Linked DNA regions of Homo sapiens: region 1 is linked to region 2. The links come from fine-mapping of genetic effects on gene expression. A gene starts in region 2. The other region holds a variant in brackets. All regions are shown on one strand. Distances are from middle to middle.

Evidence for each region. PIP is the estimated chance that this variant, and not a neighbour inherited with it, causes the effect.
Region 1: its variant is fine-mapped to the expression of LINC01181 in monocytes after Pam3CSK4 (Quach 2016, PIP 0.95). The same link has a PIP of 0.9 or more in monocytes and monocytes after LPS.

Annotation. Positions count from the first base shown.
Region 1 is chr8:103,078,251-103,083,632 of GRCh38, forward strand. No RefSeq gene overlaps it. Among named protein-coding and RNA genes, the nearest start is that of LINC01181, 40 kb to the right of the region's middle. RefSeq lists an enhancer at 287-456. The variant G/A (reference allele first, on the strand shown) is at 2,691.
Region 2 is chr8:103,118,952-103,124,333 of GRCh38, forward strand. LINC01181 (long intergenic non-protein coding RNA 1181) reads left to right here and starts at 2,081. Exons shown (of 6, transcript NR_145429.1): 1 at 2,081-2,262. RefSeq lists an enhancer at 3,118-3,619.

The sequences.
Region 1 (5,382 bases), 41 kb before region 2:
ACTTTAAGAGTGTTCTGCAAACACACTGAATGCTTTGCCTGGATCTTCCTGTGAAGATCCAGGCAGAATTTAGTAATAGAAATTTGTAAAATTTATTCTTAAATTCTTTTGCAACTGTCTTGATTTCTTCACAAACATAGTCATCATCTGTTTATCAAATGGGCATTTTAAATAATATTTGACACATAACTGGCTGACTCCACAGCTCCAAATTAGTCACACGGTAGTCTTTTGATAATAGCCAACATGTGACAACAGGGATTTTTTGCACGAGGTGGGGAGCATTCTGGTTTCCTTTTCATTTTTCCAATATGTCATATTTCTCACTTCCACTTTTCTTAGAGGGGAGGGTTGTCTTTTTGCTTCAAACTATTATAGGCTTTTACTGAGAGACAAGAGGCTATGAGCCCCACTCAGTAGAAGAAGGGTTTAAGTCTATCATATAAATTATTGCCGCTCTAACTTCTCTCTGTCCCTGCCTCTTAAGTCATTTACGGTATTTGTTTGGGTAGCTATATTGGATTTCTTCCGTTTTTCCAGGGGAAATACAGCAACTTTGGAGAGACGTGAACATGGGAATATATGAATTGATTGCTTGAGAAGTGTTAGTGTTAGTTCTGGAATGAAGTCCTGTGTCATTAGGTGCTTACGTTGAAAGGAAATGTAGAATTTTCCATAGTCGCAGCTTTCCAGATTTTAATTGGCTGCTTGCCCTCGTGTCACTTTCTTTTCTAAAATAAATGTTTTGGATGGCTCTTATCTTTACAACCAGGCACACAGCTTCATTTCCTCCTAACTAGGAAAGTTAACTCTTCAGCTACATGGTGGTACACAATGTTGTCCCTGCTCAGCAGCCCTTGAACACTCATTAAATCCCACATTAGAGCTGCAAGGAGATAGTAACATTTATTAGGTGCCTCATTTTTTTTTTTTTTCTCTGAGAGCGGATCTCGCTCTGTTGCCCAGGCTATAGTGCAGTGGTACCATCAGGGCTCACTACAGCCTCAACCTCCCAGGCCCAAGTGGTCCTCCTGCCTCAGCCTCCTGAGTAGGTGGGACCACAGGCACACTCAGATATTTTAAAAAATTTTTGTAGAGACTATGTTGCCCGGGCTGCCATTGTTTATCCATTGATTTTTTATTTTATTTACTTATTTTTCTTTTGTCTTTTTTGTTGCCTAGTTTCCCCCCTGTTCTTTGCTTCTTAATTTTGGTTGGTCAAAATCTTTCTTTTAACATTTTGTTTCCTCTTCAACCTTGGGAATTCTTCTGTTTCTATTCTTTCTTGCCTTTTCCTTGCTTCATTTCAGGACTCCTTTCCAATGAACCTGCCATTTTTTCCTGCAAAGATTGTAGTTTAAAAGAAAGCCCACTGGCCTGAAACTTTATGTAGCTAAGCAGCTATTTCAAATTCTTTCTGAGGTTGAGGGCAATAAATGATAAAATCACGCAGTCAGGCAGTGTGTTAGTTCTCTAAAGACAAGAGTTCAGAGTTCTGAGTTCTCCAAAGACAAGAACTAGTATATGAAGAGGTTTATTATAAGAAACTGGCTCACATGATTACAGAGGCTGGCAACTCCAAAATCTGCTGAGTAGATGTCCTGGTTTGAGTCTGAAAGCTGGAAGCTGCTGTAGAACCCAGAAGAGCTGATGTCCCAGTGCAAAGGCATCAGGCAGGAGAGTTCAGTCTTACCAGGGTCAGTCTTTTATTCTATTCAGCCCTTCAACTGATTGGGTGAGGCCCACCCACATTATGTCTGCTTTACTCAAGACAACTACTAATTTAAATGTTAATTTCATGTAAAACACTGATATGGCTGGGCTGTGACCCCACCCAAATCTCATCTTGAATTGTAGCTTCCATAATTCCTTCGTGCTGTGGGAGGGACTCAGTGGGAGATAATTGAATCATGGAGGTGGTTTCCACCATACTGTTCTCATGGTAGTGAATAAGTCTCACAAGGTCTGATGGCTTTATAAGGGGAAACCCCTTTCACTTGGCTCTCATTCTTCTTGTCTGCTGCCATATGAGATGTACCTTTCACCCTCCACCATGATTGTGAGGCCTCTCCAGCCACATGGAACTGTGAGTTCATTAAATCTCTTTCTTTTGTAAATTGCTTAGTCTTGGGTATGTCTTTATCAGCAGCCTGAAAACGGACTAACACACCCTCACAAAAACACCCAGAATAATGTTTGACTGACCATCTGGGCACCTTGAGGCCCTGTCAACTTGATGCATAAAATGAACATCTCAGGCAGCTCTTGCTTTCTCAGTTACAACAGGCCCCGATCCTGGCCTTTGGGTTATTTGTTGTTTGATATATACAGAAATTAAACCCAAATTTAAAAAAAAAGGGACTGAAATCTCAATTCCTAACCATGGCATTATTTTTACATTTATACCATTCTGATGCCTGTTTACCACATTTTGTGTGCATTCTTTTTACTGGTCTCTGGTCATCTGTCTCCCATTCTTCACAAGAATTGTTCCAAATCTTCTCCCCTTTTCACAGGGTCCCTTTCCAAAACTCCAGCTCTTTTGTGCTTTGCTTAAGATCTGGCCTCTTCCCAGATAGGAGAGGTTGTTTACCTTGCTAAGGTCACACAGCTACTGTATGGTAAGACTGGGATTTAATTTGAAGCAGTTGGTCTTGGTAGTCATGGGAGCCCACTGGGTGCTGGGTGCT[G/A]GGCACTGTGCCACGTGCTAAATGCCCCAGACTTCCCCATGCTGGGTCCTCCTCGTGCTGGGAGGGTGTGTACTCTTCCAGCCAGCATGCCCTGCCCCTTCTGCATGCCACACTCTGCTCTGATCTTCAGCCCAGCACCCGTCCCTCTGCACACAGGCCTTTGGCGCTTTGTTTGCTCCTATGATTTTCTGCTATTTTCTGTTTAATTCTCTCCTTTTTATTTGCATTATATAAACAGTTCTGTTTCTTTCATTAAGAAAACACCTCTCACAGGCACAGTGGCTCACATCTATAATCTTAGCACTTTGGGAGGCTGAGGTGGGAGGATTGCTTGAGCCCAGGAGTTCAAGACCAGTCTGAGTAACATAGTGAGACCCCATCTCTATTAAAAAAAAAAATTAGCCAGGCGTAGTGGTGCACACCTGTAGTCTCAGCTACTCAAGAGGCTGAGACAGGAGGATGGTTTGAGCCCAGGAGGTTGAGGCTGCAGTGAGCCAGGATCACATCACTGCACTCCAGCCTGGGTGACAGAACCAGACCCTGTCTCAAAAAAAAAAAAAAAGACAGCCCTTTTCTCTGACCCCTATGTCCCTCTCATTTGAGGAACTATCTATCTTTTCATTTTCCTCCACATTCTTTATTCTTTTTAACCTCCAAAGAGGCCCTCCACCTGCATTACGTGCCTTGCCCCATTAATAATGTACTAGTGCTATGTATGCTTGATTTTACATAAATGTTTTATTGTGCATTAAGGTCCATTCCCCATGCATATGCGCACATAAATTGCACTAATTAGAGTGCACAGCATGTTATATTGCAAGATTACATAAAATAGATTCAACACTTGGATATTGTCCAGTACATTAATTCCTTTCTTTTACATAGGACATAATATCATTGATTGTGCATGGCACATTAAGTCACATCAAGTCACATCAATCCTTAACAACATGCTTATCACTTCCAATAGGATTTCTTTACCACCAAGCTTTGAGAAACCAGCAACCTACTCAGGAAATGTCCTTCTTGCTTTGGGCCCATAAAACCTAGGGGCTTCTAGACTTGAAACTATACCTAGCATCTGGTTCTTACTTCAGGGCCATAGATTTGAAACCACTCATTTGTTCCCCCTAAATAAGACATCTCAGTGACTAATGACTAACTAGCACAAGATGACATGGAACTGTGGGGTCATGCATTTGGTATTTTTTAATTTTGGAGGGTGCTGTGATCCAACATGGCTGTCAATGCCTTGACACAGTCAGCTAGATCGTAGCTGCGCTTAAATGGAATATTCTTTACTCACATAAAATCATTTGGTGCTAATTGATTCATCTCAATGGACGTAATAAAAACAAGATATAGACACAGACACATACAAGCAGTTCTTCCTGCCATGTATGATTAACTTTGTAAACCCCTCTACCCTCCTTAAGCTCTTATAGTATCTGAGTAAGTCTTTTATTCTTGCCAACCCTGCCCAAATAAGAAACCTTGTATCTATTGACTGCTAACTAAGGCTCCTATATATACTCACATGCTATTAAATTTAGTTATAAGTTCATCTAGCATTAACCCAACTCCTAATTAAAGCATTTTTCAAAAATCCAAACATCAATTAAAAATTAGGCTTTCTAGGCTAAAAGTTTTTTTCTTACTAAGATTACCAAAAGAGCCCCCAATGCTAACATAGCACATAATTTAGCAGTTTTTTTCCCCAGGACAGAATTTTCTAGATATAAGTCGATGTAGCTCAGTCCACTAAAGTAAGGCACTGAAAATGCCTAGATGAGTTCATGTAACTGCATAAACACACAGGTTTGGTTCTGGCCCTTCTATTAATTCTTAGTAAGATTACATGTGCAAGTATCTGCATTGCATGTGTAATCAGCAAAAGAGCAAAAGGAGCAGGCGTCAAGCACACTAATTGGTAGCAACTAACGTCTTGCTCAGCCACACTCCTACAGGAAATAGCAATAATAAAAAGCAATAAACAAAAAGTTTGACTAAACTATGCTAATTTTCCTTAGGGTCAGTAAATTTTGTGTCAGCCACCACAGTCATAAACCCAAATTAATAAAATCTGAAAAGCACGTTTGTGTTTAGGATAATACAAATAAACTACAAAAATGACTTTAATATGATCTGAATACACAATAGCTAAGACCTAAACTGGGATTAAATACCCCACTATGTTTAGCCATAAACTTAAAGTTATTCACTAGAGTACTATCAGCAACAGCTTAAAACTCAAAGGACTTGGTGGTATGGTGTTTCCATCCCCCCTAGAGGAGCCTGGTTCATAATTAATAAGCAATGATAAACCTCACTATTTCTTGTCAATTCAGCCTGTATACTACCATCTTCAGCAAGCCCTAAAAAGGTCATAAAGTAAGCACAAGTACTTACATGGAAACATTAGGTCAACATGTAGCTTATGAGATGGAAAGAAATGACTTACATTGTCTGATTAAAGTACACCCAACCCATGATAAGCCTTATGAAACTACAGGCCAAAGGAGGATTTAGTAGTAAATTAAGAATAGAGAGCTTAATTGAATAAGGTTGTGAAGCACACATAGACCGCCCATTACCTTCCTCAAATGCTTCAATAAACTCAAGTTTATAATTAACACAGACCCATCTATAAGAGGAGATGTCAGAACAAAGAATACTGGAAGGTGTGCTTGGA
Region 2 (5,382 bases):
TTAAAATGAAATTTGTTCAAATTCCAGTGGCAAAATCAGAGAGGAAAATGTTCTATCAGAGAGAGGAAATATTTCCCACCATGTCTGCAGCCCTTAATCCGTGAGGTCAACATGCCCAGCTGCATGGTCTTCTGGCAGAAGTGTTATTGCAGTCATCCACAGCATGCTTCTAGGGGCAGGACTTAATTGAATTTAACAGCAGCTAAATGCTCAGCTAAAAAGAGAAGTTATGGGCTGGGTGCAGTGGCTCACGCCTGTAATCCCAGCACTTTGGGAGGCCGAGGTGGGCGGGTAATGAGGTCAGGAGTTCGAGACCAGCCTGGCCAACATAGTGAAACCCCATCTTTACTAAAAATACAAAAAATTAGCTAGGCATGGTGGCGGGCACCTGTAATTCCAGCTACTCGGGAGGCTGAGGCAGGAGAATCGCTTGAACCCAGGAGGCGGAGATTGTAGTGAGCCGAGATCATGCCATTGCACTCCAGCCCGGGTGACAGTGCAGGATTCTGTCAAAAAAAAAAAAAAGAGAAGTTATGGAAAACTGTGATGCTGCAGTGAAATGAAATCAGGCTGCTATGTGTCAGGCTGCGATGTGGGGCCCTGTGTCCTGAGTCACACACCAAAACAGGAAATCCCCTATTCTCATCTTGAAAAATTTATTAGTAAAATAAAGTAAATAAGACCAAGAAAAATAAGGCTGCTATTATTTGAATCATTTAGTGAAAAAGAAAAGCTTTCTAGAACCAACAGAACATGGTAATGAACACTCTGCCCCCATACTTATCAGTCTGTATTGGCATTTTCTGTGTAACATACCTTTCTTTCCTACTAGAAACAGTTTCTCTAGTTCAGGATCTATGTCTTATTTATCAACTCCCAAAACTGTCCCTTCTTTGAATTCCTTTGATACTTAATACCCAAGTCACTCATTTGGCATTTATGTTACCTTGTATGGTCTATTGTATTTCTATTCTGTTTATACATAGTGACTCTTGAACTAGACTATAAACTCCTTCGAGGTAGAAGTCTTGCTTTGAACATTTTGTGTCCCCATTTGTTATTTGTTGAAAACAAGGCATGCCAAGGAAGGTGCTAAGGGCTGGATATGGGATAAGAGACCCTGGTCTACCTTTGGGGATTCACAATCTGGGGAATTTCCTCAGGCAGGGCACAAAACCTATGAGACAATCCTGCTTTCCTGCTGAACTTGGACCTGGGACAGGGTGGGGATGGGTGAGGCTGGAGCTGCTGCAGCAGCGTGCCTCCAATGCCTATAAATTTCCTGTTGGCTCTCATCCGTCTGGGCTGAATTTTCTATCAACCAATAGAAAATACAGACAGGTATTATGAAAGAGGGTGTTAGGAAATCCCATGCAATTATTATACATGTCACAAATGTGTGGGTGCATATGCACCTGTGAGTGTGTGACAGACAGAGAGGGAGGAAGAGCACTAGGAGGAAATGCCATCTGAACTGAATCTTGAAAGACAAACGGGAGTTAACGAAAGATGTTCCTGAGAGAGTGGCAGGTCTGTGCTTGCATCCTGATGTCAGAGTCAGATAAACTCCAGAAGCCTCAGGGCCTCTGCACTCTATCCCAGTGCTTCCCCAAACTCCTGTTGAGGGCAGACTCTTTTAGAATATGTTAACGAATGGATGTGCAGAAGAAAACTATCTTCTGAGAACAAAATTGCTCTAGTTTCTGCATTGCTGGTTTTCTCTGAACCTTTAATATGCTGATAGGCACTCAACAACAGAATCCTTTGTTGGCAGAGCACAAATTACCCTCTGTCTGTTGAACAGTTTCAGAAAGTTTATGAAGCACTTTTCAATGAGGTGTGGAGTAATAAATGATTCAGCAACACTTAAGTCCTGCCACCCTAGGCCTAACTGGTTACACTGTCATGAAAATTTACAAATTACATGGTACCAAAGACAATATAAACACAATCTATTGGGTAAACAATTGCATGATGGATTACTGTAGACTTATCAATAGTTATGGCATAATTCAGTCTTTATTTTTGCATATGAAAGGCTCTCACGCAAGCATTTTTCTGTAGCTCATTGGAATACAGTACAGATGGCCTGGATCAGTGCAATGTGCAACAAGAGGACTATATCGTCTCAGTAAAAACCTTGAAGAGATGAACCCATTTCAGAGACCCAGCAAGGGATCACCTGCATATACAGGCATCAGCAGAAACAGGAATTTGGGATTTATCCTGGAGGTAGTGGAAGCTTTTGGAGGTCTTAACCAGGTGAATGCAATGATTGGGTATATTTTAGAAAGCTCATTCACAGGGAGAGAGGACTTGAAGCGGGGTTGTTACTAGAGACAAAGAAACTAGTTAGGAAGTTATTTCAGGTAATGAGGGAGACATAATTTAGGGGCTAAACCAAGGAAGTGACAATAGGAATGGAGAGAAGGCACAGCTTGCGAAGCATTTAGGTGGTAGAACTGATTGACTCAGCTCTGAGGCAGCTGTGGGGGTGAGAAGCTGGGGTGGGTGAGGGTGGGAAGAGGGTGGGGAGGGTTGGAGGAGTCAAGAATGAACCATGACTTCTGGTTCGTGCAACAGAGTGAAGAGCTGAGGCCCCATGGTTTCCAGGCAGCCTGTGCCAGTGAGAGAAATGCAGAATAGAGTTTGATTTGAACTCTGGCTCTGTCAACGACTTGGTACTATGGCCTTGTGCAAGCAAGTTAACGTCTCCAAGCCTTACTTTTATCTTTTGTAAAATGGGACGATGATACCCCGCTCTTGCATGTGTGAAATAACTAACACATAGTCTGTGCTTCAGAAGTGAAGTCACTGCTACTCAGAGAACACAGAAGGAGAAGCAGTTTACAGAGAAAGATGAGTTTCATTTCAGAAACACTGCACTTGAGGTGGCTTGGACAGCCATGTGGAGGTGTCCAGTAAGGCATTAGATATATAGGTATGGAACTCAGGAGAAAGATCTGGGCTGGAGAGAGTTCTAGGGGCCACTGACTTTTTGATATTAGGCCAAGGCAAGGAGGTAAATGAGAACAACCAGAGAGAGTGTGGAGAGGGAGAGAAATGCAGGCCCTAACGGACGGCCTTGGGAGCATCACCATTCAACAGCTGAGGAAAGGAAGCAGAGCCGGCAAGGGAGATGTTCTGGAGCCTGCAGGGCTGTGCAGTCAGAAGGAGGCGCAAACCAGAATCTGAAGACGCAGGTTTGAGTCTCAGCTCCCTTGCTGACTAGCTGTGTGATCCTCGCAATTCAGGTAACCTCTGTAAGCTTGTCTTCTCATTCGTCAAATGGGAATGCTGCTGATAATGTCTACTTCCTGGAGACTTTGGTGAGCTAAGGTGTATAATTTTTTTTTTTAAGCTAGAGAGCCTTATAAGTGGTTCCATGTGGTCATTTTTTCCCCCTAGACTGAATCGGCTTACATCTAAAAGCAAGGTCACTTTAAGAGGGTCTCTGTGACTCTGGCCTTGCTTGCTCAGCAGGAATTCCAGCCTGCTCAAATTCCTCTAGGCAGCTCTGGGATCCCTGGGCAGGAGGTACAGTACCTGATGCCTGAGTGCCCCAAACCCCTTCCGAGGAAACGGGGCCTTAAGCACAGGCCCTCACGTTGTCCCACTTGACTTCACCACCCTGGCTACACCTGGTGGGAATTGGGATGGGCCCTGTTCCCAGGGGAGCTGACCAGCTGACCAGCCGACCAGCCAGCAGCTCCCCACGTCTGCCCGGGGTGAGACAGGAGAATACGGTCTGGAGGCAGGGAACATAAGACTGATTCATGCTGACTTCCTAGAACTAAATCAAATGGAAATACTTCAGCTATTACAGGAAATATCCTCACCATTGACACAAGGCGTAAACCCAGTAAATGTCTTTGTAACTTTACTTGATCCTCTTCATTTACACAGGGCGTACACCAAGTAACCAATGGAAACCTCTAGAGGGTATTTAAACCCCAGAAAATTCTGTAACAGGGCTCTTGAGCCCCTATGCTCGGGGCCACTCCCACCTCATTTTCAATAAATCTCTGCTTTTGTTGCTTCATTCTTTCCTTCCTTTGTTTGTAACTTTGTCCAGTTCTTTGTTCAAGACCCCAAGAACCTGGACACCCTCCACTGGTAGCAAGGGGGCCATGTGATAGAGATCCTGCCCCTCTCCTGTATGGACATTTGGACTCAGCAAGCGAGGCCAGAGTCACAGAGACCCTCTTAAAATGACCTTGCTTTTAGATGCAGGCTGATTAGTTGCCAAAGCCCAGCAACTGGCAGGATGGGAGACATGGTGACAGTGTCTGGGTGGCTCATGGAGCCCCTCACAGCCATGGGTGGTGGCAGGAAATGGGCAGAGGTGCCTGGTGCCCAGGGTGGGGCTACTCTCCACCTGCCTTTGTCAGGCTGCTTCCCAGTTTCTTTTTTTTGGTCTGTGTTCTTGTGTGTCTCACAATGCACTCCATTTGTTAAAGTAACTTGAGAACGTGGCCATGTCTTGTGGCTTAGAGGAGGCTAATTGTCACGGGAGACTCTCACGATCTCTCAGGAGGGAGTGGAGTTTTCTCAGAATAAAGAGCATCAGCTACAGTGAAGAATGGAAATGGGGCTAATGTCTATTGACTGGGGACTGGTGAGCAAGATCATGGCACCTCCGCACACGATGAAATCCTGCAGCTGGAAAACAGAACAAGGAAGCTCTTTGTGTACTGATAAGGAGTGATCTGCAAGATATTTTCCTAGGTGAAAAATGTGAGCTTCAGAATGGTGTAGCAAAATGAAACTCAGAAAATATCTCTAGAATATTACACCTCATCTAATGACGCTGGTTGCCTATGAGGAGGGAAGCTGGGGGCCTGGGGGCAGTGATAGGAGAAGAAATTTTCACTAAGCATTGTGTAATAATTTTCCTAAATCTTGAATCATGAAATTCAGTCACCTCTTTAAACAATCAAATCAGAAAAACATCTATTAAGAACATGACCTATAAAGTTGAGCAAGTCCTATGCTTGGGCTTGCCCCCACAATTTATTGCTGGGTAAAGTTGAGCAAGTTACTCAACCTCTCTGAACTCATTTTGCTCATCTGTAACATAATCACAGGCTTGCCTCCACAATTTATTGCTGGGTAAAGTTGAGCAAGTTACTCAACCTCTCTGAAGTCATTTTGCTCATCTGTAACATAATCACAGGAATAATACCTGCCTGATAGGGCTGATTGGTTATTGTTGTTGTTTTGTTTTCTTTCTTTCTTTTTTTCATTTTTTTTTTTTTTTTGAGACGGAGTCTCACTCTGTTGCCCAGGCTGGAGTGCAGTGGCACAATCTTGGCTCACTGCAGACTCCGCCTCTCGGGTTCAAGCGATTCTGTTGCCTCAGCCTCCAGAGTAGCTGGGACT